Regions from separate parts of the Homo sapiens genome. Here all the other regions are reported to be linked to region 6. The links are microRNA targets in miRTarBase. Many come from high-throughput screens and were not tested one by one. Region 6 holds a microRNA gene; each other region holds the end of a gene's coding sequence.
The links. The annotated mature microRNA hsa-miR-454-3p reads UAGUGCAAUAUUGCUUAUAGGGU and lies in region 6 at 3,126-3,148, shown strand. An mRNA with a match to its seed (bases 2 to 7 or 8) in the 3' UTR can be bound and repressed. Matches are read on the target gene's strand: a 7mer-m8 pairs with bases 2 to 8, a 7mer-A1 pairs with bases 2 to 7 and ends in A, and an 8mer does both.

Region 1 (5,113 bases), not on the chromosome of region 6:
GCTAAGGTTAATATGAAGATGAGATTGGATATTAATTGAGGTGTATTAAGTTACCGTCATGGTTCTAGGTTACTACATAGCCACTTTAATAACCAAGTTCTTTCATCTGATAGAAAGTACACTAGAATACTAAAACAAAAAATCCCAGCTAGAGAGAGTTTTTTTTTTTTAAAGAAATTACATAAAATGAGTAAAATGGAAAGTTTAATCTCCACACCCTAATGAGATTTTTTTCCCATCAACTTAATGGAGCAGTCACTGTTACCTGAATTGTAACTCATACTTAAATGTTCTATTTTAAAAACTAAGCTAAAATATCACACATTTTAAGTTTGTTAGAGTATGCTTAATTGTATCTTTCAGCTGTGTTTATCAAAAAGAAAGCTTCACATGGCATTTAGACAGAATTCTACTTGGTTAAATAGTTTATGCATCACCTTAGGAAAATAAGTATTACTTCTCTTTTTAAAATGCAAACTGTTAGGTTTATAATACCATTTGAAGAATTTTCCCTCTCTCTTATTTTCTCTTTTAACAACTTCTTTTTTTCCCTTCAGAGTTATAGAAAATGGAGAGAAAAATCGAATGACCTATCAGAGTATAGCAATTGTTTTTGGTCCCACTCTATTAAAACCAGAAAAAGAGACTGGTAATATAGCAGTTCATACTGTGTACCAGAATCAGATTGTAGAATTAATTCTTCTGGAACTGAGTTCCATCTTCGGACGTTGATTCTTACTGAAGACAACCTGTGGAATAGAAGCTGGATTCCATCAGATTTCAAATGTTTATACACAATGTATTTTATTTTTTGGACCAAGCAGTGACTCTTTGATTTTGCACTTTTTTTTTGAGGGATCAGAAGGGAAGGGGAGAGTCGAGATGTGTGTTAGGCCCTCATATTTGCTGCTTTGTTGCAAGTTGATATAACTGCGTGTAATTATGAATTCATTTTATCCTGAATGTTTGCATTTCATACTCTGAATTTCAGTAAAAATCAAAACTTAAAATTCTAACCAGTCATATACACTGGATAATTTGGTAAGAAAACTGTATTTTTTTTCCCTGAAATTGGATAATGTACTTTCTTCTCAAGATTCATGACTTGATAGAACAATACTTTCAGTTATGTTGCAAAGGCTCTTGGGCATTTTAAACAAAATGAAGTATATCCATTTTGAAACCTGTGTATTTCTTTTTCGGGGTTTCTGCATGCAGTGGCAGTCTTAAGTGCCAAAATTCATTATAACCCCAAAATAACCCCTTGATGAAGGCTTGCTGTCTTTTACTGTGTTACACAGCATCCTTACTGGATATCTTAGTTGCTTGTTTGGGCAGCACACTAATATTACTTAAAACACTGTGATATACTGGAGTTTTAGTTAGCGGAAGTCAGTTCAGGGCATTTTAGGGCTGTCTTGCTATACTGAATTGTAGCTAACAATCCTAATTATATCTAGTACCATACTGAGTTATTGGTATGACCCTGTGGAAACACACATTATTTTATGTAAATATAGGCTAAAGACTTAATGTCCTTTAGCTTGTGTATATAATTGTGTTGTATAGTCTCAGAGTACATTCTAACCCTACATTTCTAATCATTGTTATTGGTAATCTTTTCTGTGAATATTAGGTTTCCTCCAGAAATAGTCCGTTATTTGGGAAAGTTAACTGTGTGCACTTTTAGATATTAACTACATTTACAGGCAAATCACTGTAATGAGAATGGTACTGGAAAAATACTGAATAGACTTGCTAAATGGCACATGCACTACAAGAGGAACCTTTTGGGTTATTTAATATGTACAGAAAACATTAGAAAAAATTTATTACAGAATTCTAATTCCAGTATGAATAGTGGAAACCCATCTGTAAATTAGATGGATGTTGGATGGAAAATGACATTGCTAAATTTGAGAATTTCTTTTTACCTACTAATGTAGATTGCTTTGTATAATAAAACACAGGGTTTGGAAGGTTTTGTTACAGGGAGCATGGTCTGTTGAAGATTTTTAAAATGTATTTTTCTAGATTAACTTCTGTACATGAAATGTCTAATAAAACTATAAGAGGTTTAGAGATTTTTCCATTGGAAATGTGCATTTTGGTTTCTAATTTTTTTGTTTTTTCATTTACTGGCATACTGTTATACCTCATTTTTAAAAATCAACTGAATCCAATATTTCCTGTGGCAAATAACACTTTCCTCATTTCATACCTTTTCTCCTCTCTTCCATGCCAACATTTCTCCACCCACAACGTACACTTTTTATTTCTCCATCAATATTTGAAAGCGAGTGATTTGTGACCAGGATTTTTTTTTCTTAGGGTTGCATTTATAATTTACAGATTGCCTTCCTTGGGAACAAGTATTTTTTTGTATGATCTGTCTAAAAACCTCTCACCTGAATTTTGTGGTAGAAAGTCTGTATTTGTTGTTGTGAGCGTGTTAAATTGATAACAAACCAAACTACTTGATAGCTAAAGCAGATTGTTTCGGGTGGGGAGAAAAAGCCCTAAATCAGAATGTTTATATTTGCCTAAAGATGTCCTTAATAATACAATATGCTTTAGATCTTGCTTATTTAGTGATTGTATACCAGGAAAACAATTAGACTCAAATCAGTGATGTTCTTGTTCTTGGTGTTCATGAACATATATCAAAGATTAAAATTGTCCTGTGTTTCTTGTTTCAAGGTACGTGTGTGTGTGTGTGTGTGTGTGTGTGTGTGTGTGTGAAGTCTTAAATGTTTTATTAGTCTACAGCTAATCAGTTTATTGTAATATTGTATGTACAGTGAGATTAATGTCTTGCGTTTTCATCCTTTGTGAATTAAAAATTCTCACTTGTTTTGTAATAACAAAGCTAGTAATATTTTCCTGTCTTGACAGCTTGGTTTTATAGTAGAAAATATATTAAAAGCTGAAATAAATTATCAGTGGAATTTTATTTGTTAGTAAGTCTTCCTTCATAATGTCATTGAAAAAGGTAGTTGCAGATTTAGAAAAGAAAGTATATTTAAATACATTGTCACATTCCAATTAGAAGAAAAACACTTATTTAAATTTTATAGAAATAAGAAATTTTACCCTTTACTCTGGAGAAAGTACGTTAATTATTAAATAATCTCCAAAAAATGATGTTTATATTTTAGATAGAGACAAATCTATAAATTGTTTTTATGTGAAAAGCACAAATGAAATAATTTGGTGAAACTTTGGACTTAGTGGTAGATGGGTTGTGCGTTTATAACATACACACAAACGTGTGTGTGTGCTAAGTGTTTGTGCACGCCGTTGCTTACATACAAGTGAAAACTCACCAATAATGCAGATACATGGAGACCTTTTTACTATTTCAGTTTCATTCCACGCTTCTTTGCAAGCCCACAATATTGAACATTAAGATAGCAGTGGGCTGGGCGCAGTGGCTCACGCCTGTAATCCCAGCACTTTGGGAGGCCAAGGCAGGTGAATCATTTGAGGTCAAGGGTTCGAGACCAGGCTGGCCAACATGGTGAAACCCTGTCTCTACTAAAAATTCAAAAAAATTAGCCGGGCATGGTGGCAGGCGCCTGTAATCCCAGCTACTCGGAGGCTGAGTCAGGAGAATCACTTGAACCCAGGAGGTGGAGGTTGCAGTCAGCCGAGATCGCACCACTGCACTGCAGCCTGGGTAACTGTGAGACTCCGTCTCAAAAAAAAAAAAAAAAGACAGCAGTGAAGGGAAAATAGTTATTCCATAATTGTGCCAAGAGATTTTTTCCAGCTCATGGGAGAGGCTTCTAATTAAATACTTAAACATGTAGTTTCCCATGACTCGAATTCCTCAAAGATCTTTAGGCATTTTTAAAGAAATACACAGAGGAGTCCACAACACATCTTTTTAGTAAAGAAGAAAATAAAAATAGTCAAGTGGGCGCCACGCTCTCACTAGTCTAATAAAAGTCAAATGTTCAAATATTGCATCTCTATAGAGAATTGAAAATGGGTAGAAAATAAGATTTTATGGAGTTTACTATTCTCCCTGAACTCCAGCCATGAGCTCTAATGATCTTCTTTTATAGAAAGCAATTCTCTGGGTAAGACTACAGAAAGTGTTTAATAGGGCCTTTAGCCTGCATGTTACAGTCTTGGAGGCGGAGCATAGTTTTTGTTGTTATTTTTTTTAAACAGTATTCCAGTGCAGCTAACATAGTACTATTAATTGCAACTTTAGTTTGAGACAAACAAAAACAAAAATCAAATGGGTGCAAAACAAAATCAACTGTCTTACAATGATGGTGTATTAGAATCTGTTGGGAATTCACAGGCTGTGTCCTCAGGCCGGGCAGAGTCAGACTTAGTATTCTAGAGAAGGGGGAGGTACAGAATGCCTAATGAGACATCTGTAACTACCAAAGACAAGGGAGTTCTCCTGAAGAATCTCAATTAGTCTGCTCAACTGAAGTTTTGTGGTCCAGTGGTGGCTGCAAGTATATTCAGCTGGATTGAGCTTTTACAAATTAGCCTTATGTGAATATAGCACTTAAATGAACTCTTTCATTTCCTTCATTGCTTCCCTTCTCCCACAGGGCCGGGGGGGCGGGGGGCGGGAAACGAAAGAAAGAAACCACTTTTATGGTGCTCTCATAAACAGAGCACTTGTACAACAAGGTAACTGTTTAACAAATTACTACAATACGTATTTACAATACATGTTTTTTCTCATCGACCCTCTTCTCCCTTTATTTTATTTCCTCTCTTTTAAGGTTTTCAGAAAAGCAGTCTTTGGTAAAGATTTTTAATTATTAATGCTGGTAGCCAGATCTTTCAAGTACTTATGATAGTTGTGGCTCATACTGCAAGTAGCTTAGAAACTTGTAACACTGTCATAAATTTATATTGATGAAATCCATAGTGACATGAGAGTGACAAATGATGCTGTAGAGGTCTTCCTAAACAGAACATTTGCAGAGGTAGAAATCAAAACCACTGTCAAGTCATGGTGGAGTAACCAGTGAAAATTCAGCACAGACTTCAAGGCCACCTTTTCCTCCTCGGCATTTTGAGAAATTGTTTATACAGTCATGTGACTGTTAGTGATGAGGATATGTTCTAAGAAATGTAT
Region 2 (5,113 bases), not on the chromosome of region 6:
CAACCCTTACTAGACACAAGAGAATTCATACTGGAGAGAAACCCTTCAAATGTGAAGAATGTGGCAAAGCTTTTAAGCAGTCCTCAACCCTTACTACACATAAGATAATTCATACTGGGGAGAAACCATATAGATGTGAAGAATGTGGCAAAGCCTTCAACCGGTCCTCACACCTTACTACACATAAGATAATTCATACTGGAGAGAAGCCCTACAAATGTGAAGAATGTGGCAAAGCTTTTAACCAGTCTTCAACCCTTAGTACACATAAGTTCATTCATGCTGGAGAGAAACCCTACAAATGTGAGGAATGTGACAAAGCTTTTAATCGATTCTCATACCTTACTAAACATAAGATAATTCATACTGGAGAAAAATCTTACAAATGTGAAGAATGTGGCAAAGGCTTTAATTGGTCCTCAACCCTTACTAAACATAAAAGAATTCATACTGGAGAGAAACCCTACAAATGTGAAGTGTGTGGCAAAGCCTTTAATGAGTCCTCAAACCTTACTACACATAAGATGATTCATACTGGAGAGAAACCCTACAAATGTGAAGAATGTGGCAAAGCTTTTAACCGGTCCCCACAACTTACTGCACATAAGATAATTCATACTGGAGAGAAACCTTACAAATGTGAAGAATGTGGCAAAGCTTTTAGCCAGTCATCAATCCTTACTACACATAAGAGAATTCACACTGGAGAGAAACCCTACAAATGTGAAGAATGTGGCAAAGCTTTTAACCGATCCTCAAATCTTACTAAACATAAGATAATTCATACAGGAGAGAAATCTTACAAATGTGAAGAATGTGGTAAAGCCTTTAACCAATCCTCAACTCTTACTAAACATAGGAAAATTCATACTAGACAGAAACCCTACAACTGTGAAGAATGTGACAATACATTTAACCAGTCCTCAAACCTTATTAAACAAAATAATTCATACTGGAGAGAAACTCTACAAATGTCAAGAATGTGGGAAAGCCTTTAAGCAGTCCTCAACTCTTACTAAGCATTAAATATTGGCCGGGTGCGGTGGCTTATGCAAAATGGCTCCCAGCATTTTGGGAGGCTGAGGTGGGTGGATCACAAGGTCAAGAGATCGAGACCATCCTGGCCAACATGGTGAAACCCTGTCTCTACTAAAAATACAAAAATTATCTGGGTGTGGTGGCACGTGCCTGTATTCCCATCTACTCGGGAGGCTTAGGCAGGATAATCACTTGAACCTGGGAGGTGGAAGTTGCAGTGAGCCAAGATTGTACCACTGCACTCCAGTTTGGCAACAGAGTGAGACTCCGTCTCAAAAAAAATTTATACTGTACAAAAACCCCACAAGTGTGAAAAACATGGCAAAGCCTTTAAGAAGCCCTCAATTCTTAACAGACATAAGATAATTTATACTGGAGAGAAACTCTACAAATCAGAAAGATGTGACTACTTTTGACAACGCCTCAAACTTTTCTAACCATAAAAGTAATTATACTGGTGAGAAATCCTAGAAATCTGAAGAGTGAGATAAAGCCTTTAAATGGTTGTCACACTTCATTGTAGGTAAGATAATTCATACTGGAGAAAACGCCTACATGTGTGAACAATATGGCAAAACTTAATGCTCACACTTTATTGCTAGGAAAGCATTTATACTTGAGATAAATTATACAAATATAAAGACTGTGAAAAAGCCATCATTATCTGCTCACATTTTACTCAACACAGAGAGTTCCTGCTTAATAAAAGCATTATAAGTGCAATTACTGTCAAAAGATCTTTCAGAAAATATAAGCTTTTTTAGTGAAGAGTATTTATTTTGAAGTTGAACATCACAAATATAAAAAGGGTTGTAGTGCCTTTACTTGTATCACAGATCTTTTTGTAGACATTTTCTTCTAGAGGAAAACTCTGAAGCAGTTGATCAAACTTTGTTCAACATCAGGGAATTTATATTGAAAAATTGTGCAAATATAATAAATTTGGAAAAACAATTTTTCAAAAACTACAGCTTAGAAATCAACAGTTATACTAGAATATATTTTTTCCAGATGCAGTAAAAGTAAAATATTTAATCCATAATTAAGTCTATGCAAATATCAGAGAATTTATGGTAGAAATATATAAGGTACTGACACTTCAGATATACTAAATCAGAGTGCTAAGTATAGAAAATCTGAAACTAAAGTTGGTAGAAAAGTTATTTGTATAGAACTTTAAGAGGATCAGAAGGTTTTTTGCAGAGTTATAATTACATTCAAAGTATACTTTATTTCTTGAAAAATATTACAGATTTTTTGAAAATTGAATAATGTCATCATTCAACTCTGAAATTATTTCCTGTTGTTTCTTCATTCCTATTGGATTCACATGTGAAAGCATGGGGTTAATTGTTGCTACATCAAAGAGAGAGATTCTTTTGTTTGTTTGTTCGTTTGTTTTTTGAGACTGAGTTTCACTCTTTCGCCCAGGCTGGAGTGCATTGGCATGATCTCAGCTCACTACAACCTCTGCCTTCTGGTTTCAAGCAACTCTTCTGCCTCAGCATCCCAAGTAGCTGGGATAACAGGTGCCAGCCACCATGCCCAGCTAATTTGTGTATTTCTAGTAGAGATGGGGTTTCACCATATTGGCCAAGCTGGTCTTGAACTCCTGACCTCATGTGATCCGCCCGCCTCAGCCTCCCAAAGTGCTGGGATTACAGGCTTGAGCCACCACGCCCAGCCTGTAGCATATTTTAATAGGAGAATACAATATATAATAGTAGCAGGGTTAAGTAAGGCATCCATCATCTGTAGCATTTCTCCTTTGTTTTACAAACAATCCAATTCTACACTTTAAAAAAAAATTTTTAAATGTACAATTAAATTTTTATTTACCACAGTGTTATTTTTATCGTCATAATAAAAATTATATACGAGTATAAATGAAATTCATTTCTAAATTCTTAATAAATATTTTCTCATGCCAGGTGTGGTGGCTCACGTCTGTAATCCCAGCACTTTGACAGGCTGAGCGAGGGAGTGGATCTTGAGGTCAGCAGTTCGAGACCAGCATGGCCAATATGGAGAAATCCCGTCTCTACTAAAAATACAAAAATTAGCCAGGCGTGGTGGCATGTGCCTGTAATCCCAGCTACTCAGGAGGCTGAGGCAGGAGAATCGCTTGAACCTGGGAGGTGGAGGTTGCAATGAGCCAAGATCACCCCACTGCACTCCAGCCTGGGCAACAGAGCGAGACTCCATCTCAAAAAGTAAAATATATTTTCAAATTTTCTATATATTTTTCTTTGAACATGTGGCCTGTCTGCCTGCAAACATATACAGACTTTTAGTTTTGATTCATATAGAGTTAAATACATGTTAGTCTAAAGACAAATCTTAGGTGTAAGAAAATTATGGAGTTAAGTATGTGTGTGTGAGTATGAGTTTGTACATATTTTCAGAAGGAAAGAATGATACGGGAACAAAAATCATTTTAATATGGTGACTACTATAAAACTAAAAACCTAAAAAATGCTGAAAGCAAATGTATACTTTTTGGTTTGTATTGAATTTATTACTGTACAGTCTATGACTTAGAGTTCTGAATCTTCCCAAGCAAATTCTCTGTATATACTTGCCTGGTACTCATGCTAGACCCATACTTTTTTTGTTTCTTACATTTTTTTTGTTTTATATTTTATGAAGTATTCATTATGTGAGCTGGTCTGCGATTATAAGAATTTTTATGAAATTTAGTGCACACAAAATAATCTTTAGATGTAATTCCAAAAGTAGTGTATTAAGTTACATTTTATTTAGTTAGAGCACTCCATTTTGTTCTTTTAAGAGGAGAACAATATATAGGTTTTCTTTAGTGATTTGTTCCTTTCACTTTTTATAATTGACATAAGCATATTTATTGAGTCAATTTGTTCAGCTAAGTACTAGGGAGGCTTCATTAGTCATGAGGATGTTTTTATATATAAATGTAGCAAACATATATTACAGTTTTCACTGTGTAATAGATTATCCATAATAATTCATAAATATTCCTGCTGAAGTTAGTTTGTAACTTCAAGTCAAAGATGAAAAATATCAATGGTGAAGATTGATTGTTCATATAGAGAGGACATTTTTTTTCCAGACTGTAAAACTGAATCTTGTTGAATTTAAAGAGAAATTCTGGCAGAGGCAGATGAATCACCTGAGGTCAGGAGTTTGAGACCAGCCTGATGAATATGGTGAAACCCAGTCTCTACTAAAACTACAAAAATAGCCAGGCATGGTGGTGGGTGCCTGTAATCCCACTCGGGAGGCTGAGTCAGGAGAATTGCTTGAACCCGGAGGTGAAGATTGGAGTAAGCCAAGATTGTGCCGTTGCACTACAGCCTGGGCGACAGAGCGAGACTCCATATAAAAAAAAAAAAAAAAAAAAAAGAGCTGGGCGTGGTGGCTCACGCCTGTAATCCCAGCACTTTGGGAGGCCAAGGTGGGCGAATCACTTGAGGTCGGGAGTTTGAGACCAGGTGACCAACATGGAGAAACTCCATCTCTACTAAAAAATACAAAATTAGCCCGGTGTGGTGGCGCATGCCTGTAATCCCAGCTACTCGGGAGACTGAGGCAGGAGAATCGCTTGAACACGACAGGTGGAGGTTGCAGTGTGGCGAGATTGCACCATTGCACTCCAGTCTGGGCGACAAGAGGGAAACTCCATCTGAAAAAAAAGAGAAATTCTTTTATTTTCTACTTCTCTTCAGATTTGTCTTATGCATTTTCCAACTATGTATGCATCACAGCTATTCTTTTTCTGAGTTATAGCTACAGTTTTCTTACTGTTGTCTTCATGCCATTTCATTTCACATGGTACTTTGTAGATTTTGATGAGGAAGTTGGTATTTTTAGTGCACACAAAAATTGGTTTTAACTGTAGAGTTTGCTTATCAGAACAGTTAAAAGGCAGCCAGGTGTGGCTCACGCCTGTAATCCCAGCACTGAGATAGGCCAAGGAGGGTGGATCACTTGAGGTCAGGAGTTTGAGACCAGCCTGACCAACATGGTGAAACCCTGTGTCTACTAAAAATACAAATTTAGCCACGCGTGGTGACGCACGCCTGTAATCCCAGCTACT
Region 3 (5,113 bases), not on the chromosome of region 6:
CTAGTGAATGGGCCTCATCTAAGAATTTTAAACCAGTAGAAATAAAGATAAAATACACATATATGACTGTAAATATAAGTGCATATTTAAGGTTTTCAAAAATGTACACTCTATTCTTAGAAAAAAAAATAGCAACTTACAGCTCACACATACAGGCTGCTTTGCTGTGACCCTAGAATAGGTTTAAAAATGCCTAGTGATGTGGCCCACTACTTGAAAGGCCAAGGGCTCTAAATCCCAGCCTCTGTTACTCCACAGCTGGCTTTTTTTTTTTTGGTCATAATATGTCTCACTGCTTCCCTGGATCTGGAGGGGTACAGAAGGGGTAGGAAAGGAGGCTGCAGACTAGAGTTCAGAGATGAAGGAACTACTGTGAAGATACAGCCAAAGTATAGCAATTGAACTGTACATGTGAAACGTATGTAGCTTTGCCTGAAGAACTGTTTAGATTTTATATTGCAGTGTTGGGTAGAATTTTCCCCAAAACTTAAAATTTTTATGTAACAAAAGATAAAATTTCAGTAACCCATAGCTTATAAAATCTCAACTCTAGTTTGTACTCACTTGCCTGCTGCTTATTACCCAGGAAAAACAGTGCTAAATTACTAAAAGTTTGTCAAAGATATACAGACAAATGTTTTTCAAAATAAGGATATGTAAGTGAATAGTGTTTGTATGAAGTGAGTTTTTCTAACACTTCTGTCTCTCAGTTCCACAAACCAGAGTCACTGCCTGCTGTGGACCCTGCTTTCCTGGCTCCTGTGATGGAGCCCCAGAGTAGTTTGACTCTAGGCAGTTTAAGGCTCTGCAGTTTGCAATCACTACTAATGGAGAAATTCATTTTCCCTGCAGTTTAAAGCTCATGCATCATTCTACTACCCTCTCTTATGTGAAATTATGCAATTTGACTTGATTCCTGAACTTCGTGCTGTTCTTAGAAGATTTTTTCTGCGAATCGGAGTAGTTTTTCAGATATCACAACCACCTGAACAGGAACTTGGAATAAACAAGCAATGATGGGAACTTAATATTTTTGTTGGCATTTACATCCCTCTGCTCTTTAAAAGGACGCTGGAGCTGAGGTTTCCTACCTGAAAAATGATTTCTCTGGATTGCAGTGTCTGAGTTACTGGTAAAGATGCTTAGAAGTCTTACTCAAACTTGCAACACTCCAGTCCCTTTTAGTGCTGGTGGATTTTGTGTGTTATATTGGCCTCATGTTGAGCAGAAAGCCTGTTTAAACAGTGTCAGCTCATGCTCACGGGTCCTTCCCTGTCTTCCACGGCAGGAAAAGCCCCACGTTTTTGGCAGGTGTGGAAGTGAAACTTACCCAAAGAACTATAGATGTAAAGATTGAACTTCTACAAGAAGTACAACTCAGGAGAGCTGTATTTTGAAGGATAAAATGTTTATAATTGGGGAGTGGGGAGAGAAGAAGAAATTATTGTTCATGGTAAAAGATATTTAGCAACTATGGTATTCTTATTCTGAAGATTTTTGCACACTCAGGCTATCTGAGATACTGGTAATCATCCTGTGAAAAATGTACAGAGATGCAGGTCTGTAATATAAAAATCTTAAAACATTATATAGTTCTTCCTGCACTGTTTTCTTTATTTTCTTATTCATTTGCTAAATACCCATAATATTTTGTCAAATGCACTAAACATTTGGGTGGAACTTTCTTTTTTATTTTATAGGGATTTTTAGTTTTGCCCTTTTTGGTAGGTGGTGATTTTGAGGCTGTAACATGCCCAGAAGCTGTTGTGGCCGACACTTCAACAATAGGGAAAAAAAGGTAGAAAATATCCCTACTGACAGTAACTACCTGTCACATATTTCTCTTAGGACTTTTAAAGATGAGCCATTAAAATAGAATGATCCTTTATGGACCAAAACTTGAATCACTGCAAAATGAATCCAGATTGCTGTCATTTTCTTTTCTTTTGGGTGGTGGGGCTTGATGTAGATTTTACTCTATGTACAGAATTTAACGTTGAATATATTAAAATAACAAATCTGGCATGGTTTGCGGAGGTTAGATTTACTGGAAATGTATTCATACTGTGAATTGTGCTCTGATGGTTAAAAGACAAGATTGTCAAGCATTCCGTATTAACAGTGGATGTAGAAAATTTTTTCAGATGGACAAAATGTATATGGTACAGATGTAAAGTTTTCTATGTAAAAAATTCTGTACAACTTTCTGTACAATATTGATTCCCATCTGGCATATTCTAATCAGGTTATAGGTCAATAAAGTTTTTGAATTATTTCATCAGTGCAATCAAAACCTGTATAACCCACCCCCATGTTTCATTGATTCTGGTCTATTAAGGCTGAACAACTATGGAAAAGACATTTTCAGCCAGAACTACAAATTCAATATTGTTTGGTTCTGGTATTTTCTTTCCAGCTTCTAGCATTAGATCCTCCTTACACTGTACTTACCATAGGATACTTATTTTTAAGGCAATTTTTAAAATTTTTATTTATCTTTTAGAGACCGGATCTCACTCTGTTGTCCAGGCTGGAGTGCAGTGGTATGAGCACAGCTCACTGTAGCCTCAAACTGGGCTCACGATTCTCACACTCCACCCTCCCCAGTAGTGAGGACTGTAGGCACACACCACTACACTTGCCTAATTAAAAAAAAATTTTTTTTTTTTAGAGATGGGATCTCACTATATTGCCCAGGCTGGTCTCAAACTCTTGGACCTGAAGTGATCCTCCCAACTCAGCCTCACAAAGTGCTGGGATTATAGGCATGAGCCACCATATCCAGCCCAAAAATCTTTTAATATTTTTTGCATATTAATAACCTAGCATCAGGCTACACTACTTGAATGCTGAAAAGAGCTAAAGTTCTCTTCAGCACAGTTTGCAATATTGTGTGTTCGAGGAGTCAGTTGAAGTTGTGTGGTACATGGCATTAAACAAAAAGGGAACGTGTCAATATCATCTAACATGGTTGTGTTAAAGAGGAAAAGTATTCAGTCTTTGCTTTCACACCTCTCTTAGATAATGAACAGTTACTGAACAATGCATTTGTAAGTAAGTGTGCTGTATTTGTTACACCCAAGACAGCTCTAGCTGTGTTCAAGCCCAGCTGGATGCTAGAACTGCGAGCCACTGTGACCTTGCCGTGTGAGGGTAAGTGCTCCACACAACCTGGCAGTTGATTATTTTAATGTTGTAGTATCAGGACTCTTCCCCTAGAAGAGTCAGAGGCTTTCTTCTTACTTTCAGATGACAACAGAACAAATTTTTACGAGTAAAGCAAACAAACAATGGTCCGATTAGAAAATCAAATAAAAATTTACAAGTAGCCAAAACTCAAAATATCAGTAATTTAATTGTGGCAAATTTGTCTGATATTGTCTACCAACCGTTAATTACATCAGAGGAAGTATTATTAGAGAGAGAAGCAGTGCCTGGGGATGTTCTCAGCTGTCATGGTTCTGAGATTCTAATCTGAGTCAGAATGTCACAATTATTTGAATGACTCTTTCCTTTTTTAGAAGTATCACTTACTGAGTGATTAGAAAACTCACATGGACTCACTTATCCAAGGTTCCATGGTGGAAGAAGAAGACTCCAGTCTCTCTGTCCTTGACTCCCGGGTGTCCCCACCTCTATTCAACCTCTAGAAAACTAGTCTAGAAAGCTCCATAGTAGTTAAAAAGATTTTAGTAATTAAAATAAAAATTTATTTATATCAAGAAGTAGTTACATCATGTAATTAGTAACAAGACAAATGCCTTCATTGGCATAAAAATAGAAGCAGAAAGATGATGTAACAAACATTTAACGTATGGCTTACAAAAATACAAGTAATTACAGTTCCCTTCATTTCTGCTGTATCAGTAGCTACAAATGACATGAAATAATAATTAATTAATAGGACATTTGATTGCATCACACAGAAACTGGAATAATCACAGCTACAATAGATGTACCTACTAAATGAATTCTTTTGCATCGAGGTAACAATGGAAAATGTGCATGTAACAAAGGGGAGTCCGGTTTTACAGGACGTTTAAGACACTTATTCACCTTATCTTAATGACAAGCAGAATTCAATATAATGCACATATAGTAGTTCAATCCAGTTCATTACCACCCTAATTTATGACAAAACTGTGCAAAAATAATCTATACAATTCTATTATATAAATCAATAATCATGGCCTTTTATTTATGTACATAATATACATCATGATAAAAATAATTTTATATACAGATGATGGAAAAAAAGTAACTTTCAGGTAGGGGCCAAAAGTAGGACATATTAAAGGTACAGATTTACCATTCCTTTCACCTTAAAAGGCACTACTGGGTCCAGTACAGGTTTATTTTAACCATGTGCAGTCGACAGGCCCTGCCAAGTGAAAGTGCCTGGTTTTCCAGGAATCTGCTGCTGCTCCTGGTTCAGCTGCTCTGCCATGAAACGTTTCAGCGTTTCTGAAGTGCCAGGGCGGAGCCAGGGCTCAGTTGCTACAGAGTTTGATCCGTCATCCCCTATGTGTTTCATGATGTCATCAGGGTCAACCAGTGAACTCTCATCATCTACAGGAGGCAAGGGACACGTGGCTCAGGTAACACAGGTGGCAGGCAGGAGACATAAGCGCAGGTCTCTTGTAGTCCAACTCATTACAACTCAGCATTTCCCCACAGTCTCATATCCTGAACTCTACTGTTTGTTTGTTTTGGTTAGACTCACCCCACCCCACCCTATTTTAGAGGGAGGAGAGTGGGCCCACAAAGGCCAATTTTGTAAAACAAAAAATGATCAACTGAGTAAGCTGACTCCATGGCACTAGCAACCAGAGGGATTCTAAGCATATCAAAGGCACCTCTCCATAAAACAAAGTCAACAGGAGGAATGTAGGTAGTCTTATTTTGTAACTGTTACCTCAGGAGAAGCCTAATGGCTACACATAAAATTTCTTTCTTTTTTCTTTTTATTTTTTTTAAAGCAAGGTTTGGGGAATACTCTTCAACCTACAACACTGCTATAAGGAAATTATTAAGTTATTTTGGGAAAACACTAGTTGGCATGAGATTACTTCCATTCTTAAAACACCTAATCTAACAAGGCCGTGTCCAGTCA
Region 4 (5,113 bases), not on the chromosome of region 6:
AACAACAGCAACACCAGCAGCAACAGCAGCAACAGGCGGCTCCTCCCCAACCCCAGCCCCAGTCCCAGCCCCAGGTAGCTGCTGGACTACAGCCCCAGGCTCAGGGACAGCTGCCCAGGTTGGGCACGCAGCCAGTGAACTGGGTTGGGGACAGTATGGAATAGGGTAGAGGTGGGAGGCAGGGCATGGCACCCTAAAAATGGATTGGGAGGCCAGGCGCAGTGGCTCACGCCTGTAATCCCAGCACTTTGGGAGGCCAAGGCAGGTGGATCACTTGAGGTCAGGAGTTCAAGACCAGCCTGGCCAAGATGGTGAAACCCCGTCTCTACTAAAAATACAAAAAATAATAATAATAAATAAGCCGGGCATGGTGGCAGGTGCCTGTTATCTCAGCTACTCAAGAGGCTGAGGCAGAGAATTGCTTGAACTTGGGAGGCAGAGGTTGCAGTGAGCCAAGATCATGCCACTGCACTCCAGCCTGGGGGACAGAGCGAGACTCCATCTCAAAAAAAAAAACGGATTGGGAAAGGAGGTTGAAGAAGGAGAAAAGTTCGACTTCAGTCTTCCACTTCCTATTTCCACCCAGTTCCAGCGCCAGGGGCTTCAGCAGACCCAGCAGCAGCAACAGACAGCAGCTTTGGTCCGGCAACTTCAACAACAGCTCTCTAGTAAGCCTGCCTGCCTTCCCAAGGAGAACCCCATGGAATAAATTTAGGGGGCGGGGTGGGCCAAAGTAGCTGAAACGATAGCTTCAGGCCCAGGTTATGAGAGGAGGCATTCCATTCCATCCCCTTCCCTCGATACCTGAACAGCTTTCCTCGTGCATACCCACACCCCTGCCTGGTCTTCCATCCCTGATAATCTCTGGTTTTTCACAGATACCCAGCCACAGCCCAGTACCAACATATTTGGACGCTACTGAGCCACCTGGAGGAACTGCTTGTGCACTGGATGTGGCCCCACCCTTTCCTCTTAATTCCCAATCCCATTCCTGGGCTAGCACCAGTAGTGGTTGGGGCCCTCCCCTCAGGCTCCATTTTTAATAAGTTTTTAGTATTTTTGTTAATGTGAGGCATTGAGCTGTTGGGTTTTGTATATTATTTATATAGAGACCCCAGAGCTGTTGCACCCAATACACAGAGCTTCTTTGCAAAGGGAGTGTGCGAGTTCTGCATGTCTGGGAAGGGTGGTCTCTTGGGAGAATGCAGGGGGTTGGACCAACAAGTCAGAGTCTTCATTCTATTCTGATCATCTCCCCTGTTTACCTTACACTCTAAAATTTCTTTTTTTCTTTTTTTTTGAGACGGAGTCTTGCTCTGTCGCCCAGGCTGGAGTGCAGTGGCGCGATCTCGGCTCACTGCAACCTCTGCCTCCCGGGTTCCAGCGATTCTCCTCCCTCAGCCTCCCGAGCAGCTGGGATTACAGTTATGTGCCATCACGCCCGGCTAATTTTTGTGTTTTTTTTGGTAGAGACAGGGTTCCACCATGTTGGCCAGGCTTGTCTCGAACTCCTGACCTCATGATCTACCTGCCTCAGCCTCCCAAAGTGCTGGGACTACAAGCGTGAGCCACCGCGCCCGGCCTAAATTTCTTAATTCTAATTGGATTGCTACCCTCTCTTCCTCTTCTTCAACATGGCAACACATTAAGGTATAGGCCCTTAGTCTCTTTTTATTTATTTTTGAGATGGAGTTTTGCTCTTGTCGCCCAGGCTAGAGTTCAGTGGCACAGTCTCAGCTCACTGCAACCTCCACCTCCTGGGTTCAAGTGATTATCCTGCCTCAGAGCCTCTCGAGTAGCTGGGATTACAGGCATATGCCACCAGGCCTGGCTAATTTTTGTATTTTTAGTAGAGACGGGGTTTCACCATGTTGGCCAGGCTGGTCTCGAACTCCTGACCGCAGGTGATCTGCCCGCCTTGGCCTCCCAAAGTGCTGGGATTACAGGCATGAGCCACCACACCCGTCCCCTTAGTCTTTTAAGAAGGGGCAATGAACATTCTCAACTAAATGTTGGAGCTTCTTTACAGCTTTCCTCCATGGGGGATATACCGCTGGGATTGAGGAGGGGCCATTAGGCCAGGGGAAACATCAATAGAACCTGATTCTTCTTCCACAACACCCCAGATGTTGGGCCTCAAACAAGCTGGGGAGGGTGGAGATGACAGACACTGCCTACCCTTCTTGTCATCTTGTGTGGTCCCCATCATGCACCAAGTGGCATACCTTTCATAGGACAGAGAACTTCCCTGAGAGTCACATTCCTGGATGAAAAATTGCCCTCCATTGGCATGTGCCATCATAGAATAGGTCGTGGAAGGACCGTTTGGTTCTAGGAGGAAGAGAGACCAGTAAAAATAAGCACCCTTTCTCTCTCTGCCCTACTGCCAGAACTGCCTGTTCTCACGTGACCCACCTTGGCAGTTACCCAGGATGACTTGCTCGCTCCCATTTTACAGTAGAGAAAACTCAAAACTGTTGCCCCAGAGTCACATTTGGAGCTGCGGCAGGGCCATTCTCGCCCTCTTGCTTTCCAGTTTGAGTTCTAGATCCAAGGCTGTCCAGGAGAGCCAACTGGTTTACTACAATGGAGTCTTGGAGTCTTCTGCCCTGCCTAGCTAGGGCTGGAAGAGGATCAGCCTCAGCCTTGTGAGTGGGTGGTACAGGATGATTTGACAACTTAAGGATAACATGCAAGCCATAGTTGCACCCTATTACTGGGAAGTGTCTAGTGTGCTGGCAAAACCAGGAGCACCAATCAGTACCCAAGTTATAAAAAATAAAATAGCCCTCTTTGAGGCCCACGAAGCCCTTGCTTATATGGGACTTACCAAGTTTAAGAGTTGCGTGCACAAGGAATGGAACTCCCCAACAGTGTAAAGGCAAACATGACTGAAGCTTTCTTCTCACTTATTCTATCCTGACATAAACATTCTGAGGAGCCACAGGAGTACAGGCTTGGCTGGGATGAGGGACATTCAGAGGGGCTTGGGGGTTGCTAAACAAATGGCAGGTGCGCCACATACAAAAACACAAGACACAAAGACACTGAACCTGGAGGGGAGAGACTGAAATGGTCAGACAACTGGCATGCTGACAGTCTGACATGCCCCAGCAGAAGCAGCAGAAGGGAACAGCATTGACCTTTGGGAGAGTGACAGGATGAGAGCAGAGTGGCCCCACTGGTTGCTGCTTGGGTAGTGCTGGCGCTGAGAAATAAGGGATGCTGATTGAGGTGGAGGTGTGTTTTTGTGTAGTATGACTGAGGGTTCCTGCAGGCAGTGCCTCAGTTTCTCCCTTTGGGACAAAGTCTCAAGCTTTGCGGGTAAAGTTTGGGCTAGCTGCCCTGGAAGATCACCTGTCTGATAGCTTGCAATCTGAGGTGTGTGTGCGCGCCCGCGTGAGAGAGAGGGAGCGGAACGTGCCTGAGCATGGGGGGAATTGGGCCATGCCCCAGGACTTGAGCCATCTCTGGCACAAAAGGAGTTAATGGCAGGGACCGCGCCCCCCCGTGTCCGGGAACGCGCAGCGCGCCCCCTCGGTGCGCGGGCACAGCAGCCAGGCTGCCGGAGAGCTGATCTCGGGGATTCGGGTGCGGAGCCCTTGGCCTGGAGGCGATATGGGTGGTCCGTGGCCCGGTTCAGTCGCTTGCAGCAGCCCGGGGAACAGGTGAGGCCGCCTGCCCCGGTCTCTCATCCTCTAGCTGCCCATACCTTGCCCCCATCCTAACCCCTCCCAATCCCAGGCTCCTCCACTCCCCAGCCAGTGGCCCCCATCCCTCTCAACCCCATGTTCTCCATCGGTACCCCTGACCCCCGATCCTCCCCCGCTTCTGTTCTCCCTTCTACCTCCTCCCTAAATCCCGCATCCCTAACATCCTCCCGCCCATGGTCCCTCTATTTCCACAGCCCATCCCGCATGCTCATCAAAATACCCCTATTGAGGGCCCCCAGCCCCATCCCGGGATTGCACATTGCCAGTCCCCCCTCCCCTGCAGTGCAGCCCCATCCCCCTTCCATCATAGCATCTCATAGCCAGGCTCCCTCCCCCACTATCTGCAGCCCCCCCACCCAATGGAGGCCTTTATCCTATCCTCCCCCATTCCAGTGCAACTCCATCCCCCAATCCATTCCAAGCCCTCGTAGCCCCCAATACTGCAGTTCTCAATATTGGTCCATTCCTGCACAATGCCCCGCGCCCAGCACCGCTGCAGCCCCAAAAGTACCCCGAGATGCCATTCTCATCCCCGGCATTGCTGCCTCCCCTTGTCTTCTCCCAAATTGCAAGTTGGACCAGGATGGAGATCTTGGCCTTGGGGATTCACAGTGGGTCCTAGGGTACAGAGGGCGTTTGGGGGTCGGTCCGATTGTCTAGGTGTTCACGGGGGAGGGGCTGCAGGGAATTGACTCAAAGGAGAATTTGGCATTTGGCGCCGAAGGGTTACTGGAGAGGAGGGCATCCCGAAAGGGTTAATGGAATTTGTGGGTTGGGGGCAGCACCGAGGGGGTTAATGTGGGGGGGTTGCTGGTGGGGAAGCTGTGTGAATGAGCGGTCTGTGCCCTGGAGTTGCCATGGAGACGGTGAATGGGGGGATTGTGTGAACTCAGCTGCGGACTATGCCCCCCCCAATACACACACCCACCCACTCCCTCCTGCCCCACCTCCCTACTCCTACCCCTTCCTTCCCCTTCCCCTCCTCCCCACACCCGGGTGCATTCTGGGCAGTGTCTGGGATCTTACCCCCCATACTTTGCTCCCCATTTCCTCATTTCCTCTGAGCCCCCACCCCTTTAGCCACTTTACCCGCCCTCCCTCCTCTTCCTTTTTCTTCTCTCTCTCTCTCTCTCTCTCTCTCTCTCACACACACACACACACAGACACACACACACACACACACACACACACACACACACACACACACACACATTCTCATTCCCCTCTCGTGGTGGCTGATTGCCGGGCGTTCCCAATCTCCCTCCCCCACCCCTTCAGCCAGTTCTTAAAGGAGCAGGCCTGCAATCTGGGAAGGCGGGAGAAATGGAGGAAAACTAAATGTGCATGTGGCGTGGGTGTGCGTGTGTGTGCGTGTGTGTGCGGGAGCATGCGGGAGTATC
Region 5 (5,000 bases), not on the chromosome of region 6:
AGGCACCCACCACCACACTGGCTAATTTTTGTATTTTTAGTAGAGATGGGGTTTCGCTACATTGGCCAGGCTGGCTTGAACTCCTTACCTCAGGTGATCCTCCCACTTCGGCTTCCCAAAGTACTGGGATTACAATAGGCGTGAGCCACCGTGTCTGGCCTAAATTTTGTTTTTAATTAGGGAAAGGAAAGGGCAAAGGGTTTGAGTTGCTGTCTGAACTGTGAGAAAAATGGCTGTAATATTTTTCTACCTTTTCAACTTTTTAAAACTAATCTTTCTCATTATCCTCAGATCATAGGTATATTGAACTGTTCCTGAATTCATGTCCAAAAGGAAAATAAGACTCTAGGGGCTCCAGATAATAAGGTAAATTTAAGAGGTAATACTGTGGGCTGGGTGCAGTGGCTCACACCTGTAATCCCAGTACTTTGGGAGGCCAAGGTGGGCGGACCACCTGAGGTCAGGAGTTCAAGCCAGCCTGGCCAACATGGTGAAACCCTGTCTCTACTAAAAATACAAAAATTAACCGAGCATGATGGTGGGTGCCTGTAATTCCAGCTACTCAGGAGGCTGAAGCGGGAGAATCACTTGAACCCGGGAGGCAGCGGTTGCAGTGAGCTGAGATTGTGCCACTGCACTCCAGCCTGGGCAACAGAGCGAGACTCAAAAAAAAAAAAAAAAAAGAGAGAGATACAACTGTGGAAATTATTTGCTATTGATAAACTAATAATCATTCACTCACTAATTTGTAATATGGTAGAAACCATTCTCTTTTTATTTTTCAAATTTTTTTAGGGACTAGGTCTTGCTCTGTTGCCCAGGCTAGCAGTGGTGCGATCATAGCTCACTGCAGCTTCAACCTTCTGGGCTCAGGTGATTCTCTCACTTCAGCCTCCCAAGTAGCTGGGACTACAGGTGTGTACTACCATGCCTACCTAATTTTTTAATTTTTTGTAGAGATGGGGTCTCACTATGTTGCCCAGGCTGGCCTTGAACTTCTGGCCTTAAGTGATCCTGCTGCCTTTGCCTCCCAAAGTGTTGGAATTACAAGAGTGAGCCACCCCGCCTGGCACCATTCCTTTTTAATAAAGATCAAACTAATGATAATTGAAGTGTCAATATAAGGAATGAAAATTCTCGCTCTGGCTTCTCAGATGTGGGGGGCAAAAAAAAAAAAAGAAAATTCTGCTGGGAAATAGAATTAATTATGATATTTTTTCATTTTTTTTAAATTTTATTTTATTTATTTATTTATTTTTTGTGAGATGGAGTTTCACTCTTGTTGCCCAGGCTGGAGTGCAATGGCTCGATCTCCACTCACTGCAACTTCCACCTCCCGGGTTCAAGAGATTCTCCTGCCTCAGCCTCCCAAGTAGCTGGGATTACAGGCATGCACCACCACGCCCAGCTAATTTTTGTATTTTTAGTAGAGACGGGGTTTCTCCATGTTGGTCATGGCTGGTCTTGAACTCCTGACCTCAGGTGATCCGCCTGCCTCGGCCTCCCAAAGTGCTGGGATTACAGGCGTGAGCCACTGTGTCCGGCCTACTTTTTATTTTTTTTGAGACAGAGTCTTGCTTTGTTGAGCAGACTAGATTGCAGTGATGCAGTCTGGGCTCACTGCAAACTCCGCCTCCTGGGTTCAAGTGATTCTCCTGCCTCAGTCTCCCGAGTAGCTGGGACTGCAGGTGCCCGCCACAATGCCTGGCTAATTTTTTTGTATTTTTAGTAGAGATGAGGTTTCACCATGTTGGCCAGGCTCATCTTGAACTAACTCCTGGCCTCAAGTGATTTACCTGCCTTGGCTTCCCAAAGTGCTGGGATTACAGGAGTGAGCCACTGCTCCCAGCCATAATTCCTTATGATTTATATGGTAGCTTTGAGCATTATCTCCATATAGAATTTTTATGCATAATTTCCAACATCATGCTGTTTGCCAAAAAATAGCCACCTTTAGTAGCTATAAATCGTAATAGACTGGATATGTGACTTGCATTAGCTTTTTTTCCCCACTTAAATTTAAACACGTTTTCCATTTTCTCAGGTTACTTTTGTTTTTTTTTTTTTTTTTTTTTTGATATGAAATCTCACTCTTTTTGCCCAGGGTGAAGTGCAGTGGCACAATCTCAGCTCACTGCAACCCCTGCCTCCCGGGTTCAAGTGATTCTTCTGCCTCAGCCTCCCAAGTAGCTAGGATTACAGGCATTCTCTACCACATCCAGCTAATTTTTGTATATTTAGTAGAGACGGGGTTTCACCATGTTGGCCAGGCTGGTCTCAAACTCCCGACATCCAGTGATCCGCTAGCCTCAGCCTCCCAAAGTGCTGGGATTACAGGTGTGAGCCACCACGCCCAGCCATTTTCTGTTTTAAGGTATTTTTAAAAGGATACCATGTGAAACCAGAGTGTATCATCCATAAACACAGTTAATGTGCCACTGTTTCCTTTTCCTAAAATGGCATTTTTTTTTTGCCTTAGGAAGTACATAATTTTATAGTGTTAACCTACCCGTGAGATTTGCTTAATACATCTTGATGTTCCTTGCCTCGATTAAATATATGGTGTCTTTTTTTTTTCCCATAAGGTATTGTAAGTATTACTGTTGTATTGCAGTCACTTTTCTACAGGTAATGGCTCATTCTTTTGAGACACTTACCTGTAATGATTTCTTGAAAACACATGGGGCCAGGCATGGTGGGTTACTCCAGTAATCCCATTACTTCAGGAGGCTGAGGCAGGCAGATCACCTGAGGTCAGGAGTTTGAGACCAGCCTGGCCAAAATGGCGAAACCCTGTCTCTCCTAAAAATACAAAAATTAGCTGGGTGTGGTGGTGCATGTCTGTAGTTCCAGCTACTGGGAAGGCTGAGGCAGGAGAATCACATGAATCTGGGAGGCGGAGGTTGCAGTGACTGAGATGGTGCCACTGCACTCCACCAGCCTGGATGACAGAACGAAACTCTGTCTCAAAAAAAAAAAAAAAAAAGGAACAAAAAAACACGGACATTCATTCTATTACTATATCCTATTCTATTGCTTTTTTTTTTTTTTTGGGAGACGGAGTCTCTCTCTGTCGCCCAGGCTGGAGTGCAGTGGTGTGATCTCCGCTTACTGCAACCTCCGCCCCCCGGGTTCAAGCGATTCTCCTGCCTCAGTCTATGAAGTAGCTGGGGCTACAGGCGTATGCCACCATGCCCGGCTAAGTTTTGTATTTTATTTTTATTTATTTATTTTTTGAGACGGAGTTTCTCTCGTTGCCCAGGTTGGAGTGCAATGGCACAGTCTCAGCTCACTGCAACCTCTGCCTCCTGGGTTCAAGTGATTCTCCTGCCTCAGCCTCCCCAGTAGCTGGGATTACAGGCATGCGCCACCACACCCGGCTAATTTTTTATTTTTGTGGAGACGGGGTTTCTTTATGTTGGCCGGGTTGGTCTCGAACTCCTGACCTCAGCTGATCTGCCCGCCTCAACCTCCCAAAGTGCTGGGATTACAGGCGTGAGCCACCGTGCCTGGCCTCTTCTGTTGCTATTTTTGGATATGAAGTCCCACAATTCTTTGGTGTTAAATATTTATAATAGCTAAAATCTATTTAAAATATATTCTGAAACTCAGTTTTTTGTACCAGCCTGTAAACACTAATGCCTGACTAGTTTTCCTCACTTTAACTCGGTTTATCAGATAGCTTGCACTAAATTAGAAAGGAGAAAAATTTGAATTTGCAATTTTAAATGGTATGGGAATGTGTGCCATCCTTTTTCATCTTGAGTAAATGTACAATATTTTTTGTTTTATTTTTAGGGTGAAGCAAGAAGCATTTCATTTGCACATCTTTCTTGGACTTGGGATATACAGTTCCAGTTTATTAGCAGCAACTGCTAGGGAAATGATTTTGGTGTTTTGGGTTAATTGCTTCTAAGAAAAGTTTCATAGTGGACTGTTTAGAAGAAGAAATGAAAGATCCAGTTTGGGATTATGAAATAAACCACAAATTAAAATTTTTGTTTAAACTGTCCAGGATCTGATTTAAAAATATGGTCTTTGTTTTATATGATTAAATGGTTTGTTTTCATAGATGATATGTTACTCATTGTAAAGACCACATATTTTTATTCAGCAGTGTTCTTTAAACGGTTTCATTTAAAAAGTAACTTTTTTTTTTTGCCTGTGAATTGAGTGCTCTGATGTAAAACTTCTCATGGAGTGAAACAGTGATTTATTTTAACCAAACATTCACCAAAGCAAAGAACGGTTTCAGACCTTTGAACTGGTATGGTTTGGCAGAATAGTTTTAAATTTTGCTGTATTTGATTACTTAGAGATAGGAATTTTTAAAAATCAAAACAAAAAATACCACAGCTTAGTGTAAATGACAATTTGGCGGTTTTATGTCTTTAGAAATGTTTTGCCTTTCTAAGCCTTGTGCTAAAGGCGTATAACGGTGGTGCCTATCTACTTAAGGGGGCATTCTAGTCTTAACTTAAAAGTTGTCTAAACTGTCCCTCCCTGGCTTTTTTTGGTTTGGGGTAGACCTAAGGGTGTTTGTTAGTCTCAAAACTGTGAAGTGACATGTCAGAACAGTCCAGACTGGTAAGAAAATTAATGGCTTCACTTGAATTTAAACCAGCTCTAGATAGGAAAAAAATCAGTCTCCTCATTTGCTTTTTAAATGGAGTAGTACATCCCATATTTTAGAACAAGTAGGGGTGCCTTGCTTAAATAAAAATAGCATTTAATGTATAATTGTGTGAAGGGTTTATGGATAAAGCTGTACTTCTGTCACAATGTGGCAGTACTTTCTGCTTTAATATTAAACAGCTTGTTATTTAAATATTGGACAAAATGGCTGGCTTCAAAATATAGTCATTAATAAACTAACTTTATGTGCACCTGTGTAGGAGAATCAAAATCCTGTATGCTTTCTTTGCCTTGTTCCTGTTCTCAGGGTGACGACTGCCACCAGGAGATGCAGTTCTAGTTCTTAAAATTAAATTTGCCCAGGT
Region 6 (5,000 bases):
ACTAGCCTTTTAGGCCAGGCGCGGTGGCTCATGCCTGTAATCCCAGCACTTTGGGATGCTGAGGCGGGTGGATCACAAGGTCAGGAGATTGAGGTCATCCTAGCTAATACGGTGAAACCCTGTCTCTACTAAAGAATACCAAAAAAAAAAAAAAAAATTAGGCGGGTGTGGTGGTGGGCACCTGTAGTCCCAGCTACTAGGGAGGCTGAGGCAGGAGAATGGCGTGAACCCGGGAGGCAGAGCTTGCAGTGAGCCGAGATTGCACCCCTACACACCAGCCTGGGCAACTGAGCAAGACTCCATCTCAAAAAAATAAAAAAATAAATAGTACAAATAAAACTAGCCTTTTAGAGGCAGGGGCTTATGTATATATCCTAGCAATTGTTCCATAAAAGCCTGCAGATTGGGCCGGGCGCAGTGGCTCACACCTGTAATCCCAGCACTTTGGGAGGCTGAGGCAGGCGGATCACCTGAGGTCAGGAGTTCGAGACCAGCCTGGCCAACATGGTGAAACCCCGTCTCTACTAAAAATACAAAAATTAGCCAGGCATGGTGGCAGGTGTCTGTAATCCCAGCTACTCGGGAGGCTGAGGCAGGAGAATCGCTTGAACCCAGGAGGCTTGAACCCAGTGAGCTGAGATCGTGCCATTGCACTTCAGCCTGGGGGACAAGAGCGAGACTTCATCTCAAAAAAAAAAAAAAGCTTGCAGATTGGGAACTGATGAACCTGAAGCCCTTGCTCACTTTTATCCCCTCTGGTTGCCAATTGCCTGAAATAACATGTCTGTGACCTGGTGTTAGGGCATGTTACTGCTTATCTGTTTTGGACAAGCATAGTCATGCATTTGTTCTGTTTGGAAGAGAGAATGGGTAATAGTCAATACTTTCTCCAGCAGAAAAAGGCAAAAACCAATTTTGATTGTGGAGACATGATATAAGTGGTCCTTAGCTTGCTGGGAACTTGAAATATTTCCCTTAAAACGTGTTTTAAAGGGTAGTTGGGTTCCCAGGTGGTTTGTTCTTTCAAATGAATGAATGTTTGTTCTTTCATCTATTCCCTTTTGTCACTGCACATTAGGCTGTATATTAAAAACTAAGGATACAAAAAAGCGATCTCTTGCCAGGAAGATGTTTGAAACCATGTGGCGACATTACCATGTAAACATAGATTAAAATATAATACAGTAGATGGTAAACCAAAGCCATGAACAAAGTAAAAGGAGAGTAGATAAAGGTGTTTCTAAATGTACATTGAAGAGAAGAAAATGTACAAAAAGTAGATTCTGGCCGGGTGCAGTGGCTGACACCTGTAATCCTAGCACTTTGGGAGGCCAAGGCGGGCAGATTACGTGAGCTCAGGATTTCGAGACTAGCCTGGGCAACATAGTGAGCACTCATCTCAAAAACAAAAAAAATTTAAAAATAAAAATAAAAGTAGGTTTTTTGATTATAGCCAAACTAGTTCCATTAAGATACTTAATTCTCCCTTAAAATGTTTCTATGGAAAATGCATTTCTTTTTTTTTTTTTTTTTTTTTTGAGACGGAGTCTTGCTCTGTTGCCCAGGCTGGAGTGCAGTGGCGCCATCTCGGCTCTCTGCAACCTCTGCCTCCCAGGTTTATGCCATTCTCCTGCTCCAGCCTCCCGAGTATCTGGAACTATAGGCATCCACCACCATGCCCAGCTAATTTTTTGAATTTTTAGTAGAGACGGGGTTTCACCGTGTTAGCCAGGATGGTCTCAATCTCCTGACCTCGTGCTCCGCCCGCCTCAGCCTCCCAAAGTGCTGGGATTACAGGCGTGAGCCACTGCGCCCAGCCGGAAAATGCATTTCTAAGCCTGTTTAGTAAGTCCAGAACACACCTGTCTACCAACTCTTCTCTATGCCTAGCCCACCATAGGTGAGACTGAAATACTTTTTTTCACTTTATGTAATTTAATGCTGTTGAGATAAGGTCTCTCATAAGAGGATGTGTTTAGAGCTTTAAGGGCACTGGTCCTTTGTAGGAGAGCATACGGTGGCAATGAGAATCTAGGGGTTGTTTGTAAAAAGCAAGTGTTTTAAAACTGAGGACCACACAGTATATTGTGACAACCGCAATATATTCTTTTCTCCTTGCTGCCTAATAGTTGAGTAGTATGGAATACCTTGTGCCACTTACTTAAAGCCTTAAACTGGTCATATTGAAAACTAGACTAGAACAGGCTGGGCGCGGTGGCTCATGCCTGTAATCCCAGCACTTCAGGAGGCCGAGGCGGGCAGATCACTTGAGCTCGGGAGGTCAAGACTAGTCTGGGCAAAATGGTGAAACCCCATCTCTACCAAAAATACAAAAAATTTACTAGGCGTTGTGGCGTGTGCCTGTAGTCCCAGCTAGTCGGGAGGCTGAGGCATGAGAATTGCTTGAGCCTGGAGGCAGAGGTTGCAGTGAGCTGAGATTGCGCCACTGCCCTCCAGCCTAGGCAACAGAGTGAGACGCTGTCTCAAAAAATAACAAACAAACAAAACAACTGGTTGAGCATCCCTAATCCAAAATTCCAAAATCTGAAATGCTCCAAAATCCAAAATTCATTGGACCATTTCAGATTTTGAATTTTCAGATTAGGGATGCTCAACCAGTAATTATTATGCAAATATTCCAAAATAGGAGGAAAAAATCAGAAATCTAACTGGCAGAATGTAACCTGGTTTCCCTTGGGGTGCTTTCATGATGATTTCCATAGACTTTTTTCACCTAATTTTGTATTTTATATACCACTTTTCAGATCAGTATAAAACTTTTCCCCTTTATTTTTATTACTGATTTTAGAGAAAACTGGTTTCTGAAATACGAATATCTTGGGCTTTACAAAAATCACTAGTTTTATTTTAAATATTCCATTGCCCCTAAAAAGTTAAACAATAACCTCACTGATTTCCAAGGCTTCCAGGAGGCTGATTTGTAACTGAAAGGGCTGTGAATGATGTTTATCAGAATCAAATTTGCGCGATTTATCAGACACTAATGAGTTTTAGATTATCATAATTGCTTAGTGAATTTCTGCCATCTAACTAAAAAAAATTCTGTTTATCACCAGATCCTAGAACCCTATCAATATTGTCTCTGCTGTGTAAATAGTTCTGAGTAGTGCAATATTGCTTATAGGGTTTTGGTGTTTGGAAAGAACAATGGGCAGGCTGCAGAAAGTATGTAGCAGAAACAAGCAAAAGTCATCTTTAGGAAGAAAACAAGGAACTAGATTTCACTATAAACATTAAAATCTGAGGCTTAAATGTAAATTTTTAATTTATTAGAAGAAGGTAACTTTTCTTTTTGACAAATGGGTTTATTTGTAGTATAAAGAAATAATGGAATTTTAGTATTGAAAAGGATCTTAGATTCCAACTCATTTGATAGGAGAGACCCAAAGAAATGAGGGACTTAACCTAGGGACACATAGCTGGTTAGTGATACTAGGACTAGAATTTCTACCATGTATCCGAATTCTTTTATTTTTCTGTACCATACTACCATGTTGTGTTCAGAGGGAATTTTTAGTTGACTAGCTTTGTAACTTTAGTGATATTAATTTAAAACATAAAAAAACTTTAATTTTAGGTGAAGAATGTACATTTTTGGATGGGTGTGGTGGCTGACACCTGTAGTTCCAGCACTTTGAGAGGCTAAGGCGGGAAGATTGTTTGAGCTCAGGAGTTCAAGTCCAGCCTGGGTAACATAGCGAGACCTTGTCTCTACAAAAAAATACAAAAATTAGCTGGGTTTGGTAGTGCACGTCTGTAGTCCCAGCTACTCAGGAGGCTTAGGCAGGAGAATCAAATCTCTTGAGTCCAGGAGGTTGAGGCTGCAGTGAGCTGTGATTTGTGCCACTGCACTCGCCTGGGCAACAAAGCAAGACCCTGTCTCAAAAAGAAAAAAAAGAATTTACATTTTTTCCACATGTGTGACTCTTAATGGCTTAAATATCATCTATAACTTTGTCTAACTACATAAGAAAACAGTAATGGAAATAGAACTAGAGGCAAGTTACTTTGCTATTTTCTCATTTATAAAATGAAGGGTTCAGAGCAGACATTTAAGATGATTTTTCGGCTGGGCGTGGTAGCTCACACCTGTAATCCCAGCATTTTTGGAGGCCGAGGAGGGCGGATCACAAGGTCAGGAGATCAAGACGAGCCTGGCCAACATGGTGAAACCCTGTCTGTACTAAAAATACAAAACTTAGCTGGGTATGGTGGTGCACGCCTATAGTCCCATCCGCTCGGGAGGATGAGGCAGGAGAATCGCTTGAACCCGGGAAGTGGAGGTTGCAGTCAGCCAAGATTGTGCCACTGCACTCCAGCCTGGCAACAGAGTGAGACTCCGTCTCAAACAAAAAAAAAAAAGCTTATTTTTCTATCTTTCAACATTTTGGCATCCTTTTTGCCCCCTGCTTATTCCCTAGCCCACTGACTTCACTAATAAGCCAGTACTGGCCAGGCACAGTGGTTCACACCTGTAATCCTAGTACTTTGGGAGGCCGAGGTGGGTGGATCACCTGAGGTCAGGAGTTCGAGACCAGCCTGCCCAACATGGTGATACCCCGTCTCTACTAAAAATACAAAAAATGAGCCAGGCATGGTGGCAGGCGCCTGTAATCCCAGCTACTTGGGAGGCTGAGGCAGGAGAATCTCTTGAACCTGGGAGGTAGAGGTTGCAGTGAGCCCCGAGATCGCGCCACTGCACTCCAGCCTGGGTGACAAGAGCGAAACTCGGTCTAAATAATAATAATAAGTCAGTACTGCCCCTGTGTGTTATTAGACGTTCTATACAATTTTCCACAGAGGATAACATTCTACCCACAAGCTGTTTTTTTTTTCTTCCTTCCTCCCTTCCTTTTGGAGATGGGGTCTCACTATATTGCCCAGGCTGGAGTGCAGTGACTAGTCACAGGAGAGATTATAATACACTGCAGCCTTGAACTCCTGGGCTCAAGCAATCCTCCTGCCTCAGCTCTTTAAGT

Region 1: miRTarBase lists ARHGAP12 as a target of hsa-miR-454-3p. Seed matches in the 3' UTR shown: 7mer-m8 at 838-844 and 7mer-A1 at 1,771-1,777.
Region 2: miRTarBase lists ZNF431 as a target of hsa-miR-454-3p. Seed matches in the 3' UTR shown: 8mer at 4,360-4,367 and 7mer-m8 at 4,663-4,669.
Region 3: miRTarBase lists CSPP1 as a target of hsa-miR-454-3p. The part of its 3' UTR that is shown has no 7-base or 8-base seed match.
Region 4: miRTarBase lists MED12 as a target of hsa-miR-454-3p. The part of its 3' UTR that is shown has no 7-base or 8-base seed match.
Region 5: the mRNA of GRSF1 is a reported target of hsa-miR-454-3p. The part of its 3' UTR that is shown has no 7-base or 8-base seed match.

The regions. Positions count from the first base shown.
Region 1 is chr10:31,803,277-31,808,389 of GRCh38, reverse strand. It overlaps ARHGAP12 (Rho GTPase activating protein 12), which reads left to right. Exons shown (of 20, transcript NM_018287.7): 20 at 558-2,992. The coding sequence ends at 732. Among named protein-coding and RNA genes, the nearest start is that of MACORIS, 98 kb to the right of the region's middle.
Region 2 is chr19:21,183,037-21,188,149 of GRCh38, forward strand. It overlaps ZNF431 (zinc finger protein 431), which reads left to right. Exons shown (of 5, transcript NM_133473.4): 5 at 1-5,113. The coding sequence ends at 998. Among named protein-coding and RNA genes, the nearest start is that of ZNF431, 44 kb to the left of the region's middle.
Region 3 is chr8:67,194,838-67,199,950 of GRCh38, reverse strand. It overlaps CSPP1 (centrosome and spindle pole associated protein 1), which reads right to left. Exons shown (of 31, transcript NM_001382391.1): 31 at 3,337-4,569. The coding sequence ends at 4,358. ARFGEF1 (ARF guanine nucleotide exchange factor 1) reads left to right here. Exons shown (of 39, transcript NM_006421.5): 39 at 853-2,293. The coding sequence ends at 1,017. Among named protein-coding and RNA genes, the nearest start is that of CSPP1, 130 kb to the right of the region's middle.
Region 4 is chrX:71,141,297-71,146,409 of GRCh38, forward strand. MED12 (mediator complex subunit 12) reads left to right here. Exons shown (of 45, transcript NM_005120.3): 43 at 1-74; 44 at 587-668; 45 at 879-1,154. The coding sequence ends at 922. It overlaps NLGN3 (neuroligin 3), which reads left to right and starts at 3,545. Exons shown (of 8, transcript NM_181303.2): 1 at 3,545-3,668. It overlaps LOC124905197 (a long non-coding RNA gene), which reads right to left. Exons shown (of 4, transcript XR_007068262.1): 4 at 1,250-2,331. RefSeq lists a silencer at 4,361-4,616.
Region 5 is chr4:70,819,660-70,824,659 of GRCh38, reverse strand. GRSF1 (G-rich RNA sequence binding factor 1) reads left to right here. Exons shown (of 10, transcript NM_002092.4): 9 at 292-366; 10 at 3,799-5,000. The coding sequence ends at 341. Among named protein-coding and RNA genes, the nearest start is that of GRSF1, 18 kb to the left of the region's middle.
Region 6 is chr17:59,135,935-59,140,934 of GRCh38, reverse strand. It overlaps MIR454 (microRNA 454), which reads left to right and starts at 3,063; the gene lies at 3,063-3,177. All of the region lies in intron 1 of SKA2 (spindle and kinetochore associated complex subunit 2), which reads left to right.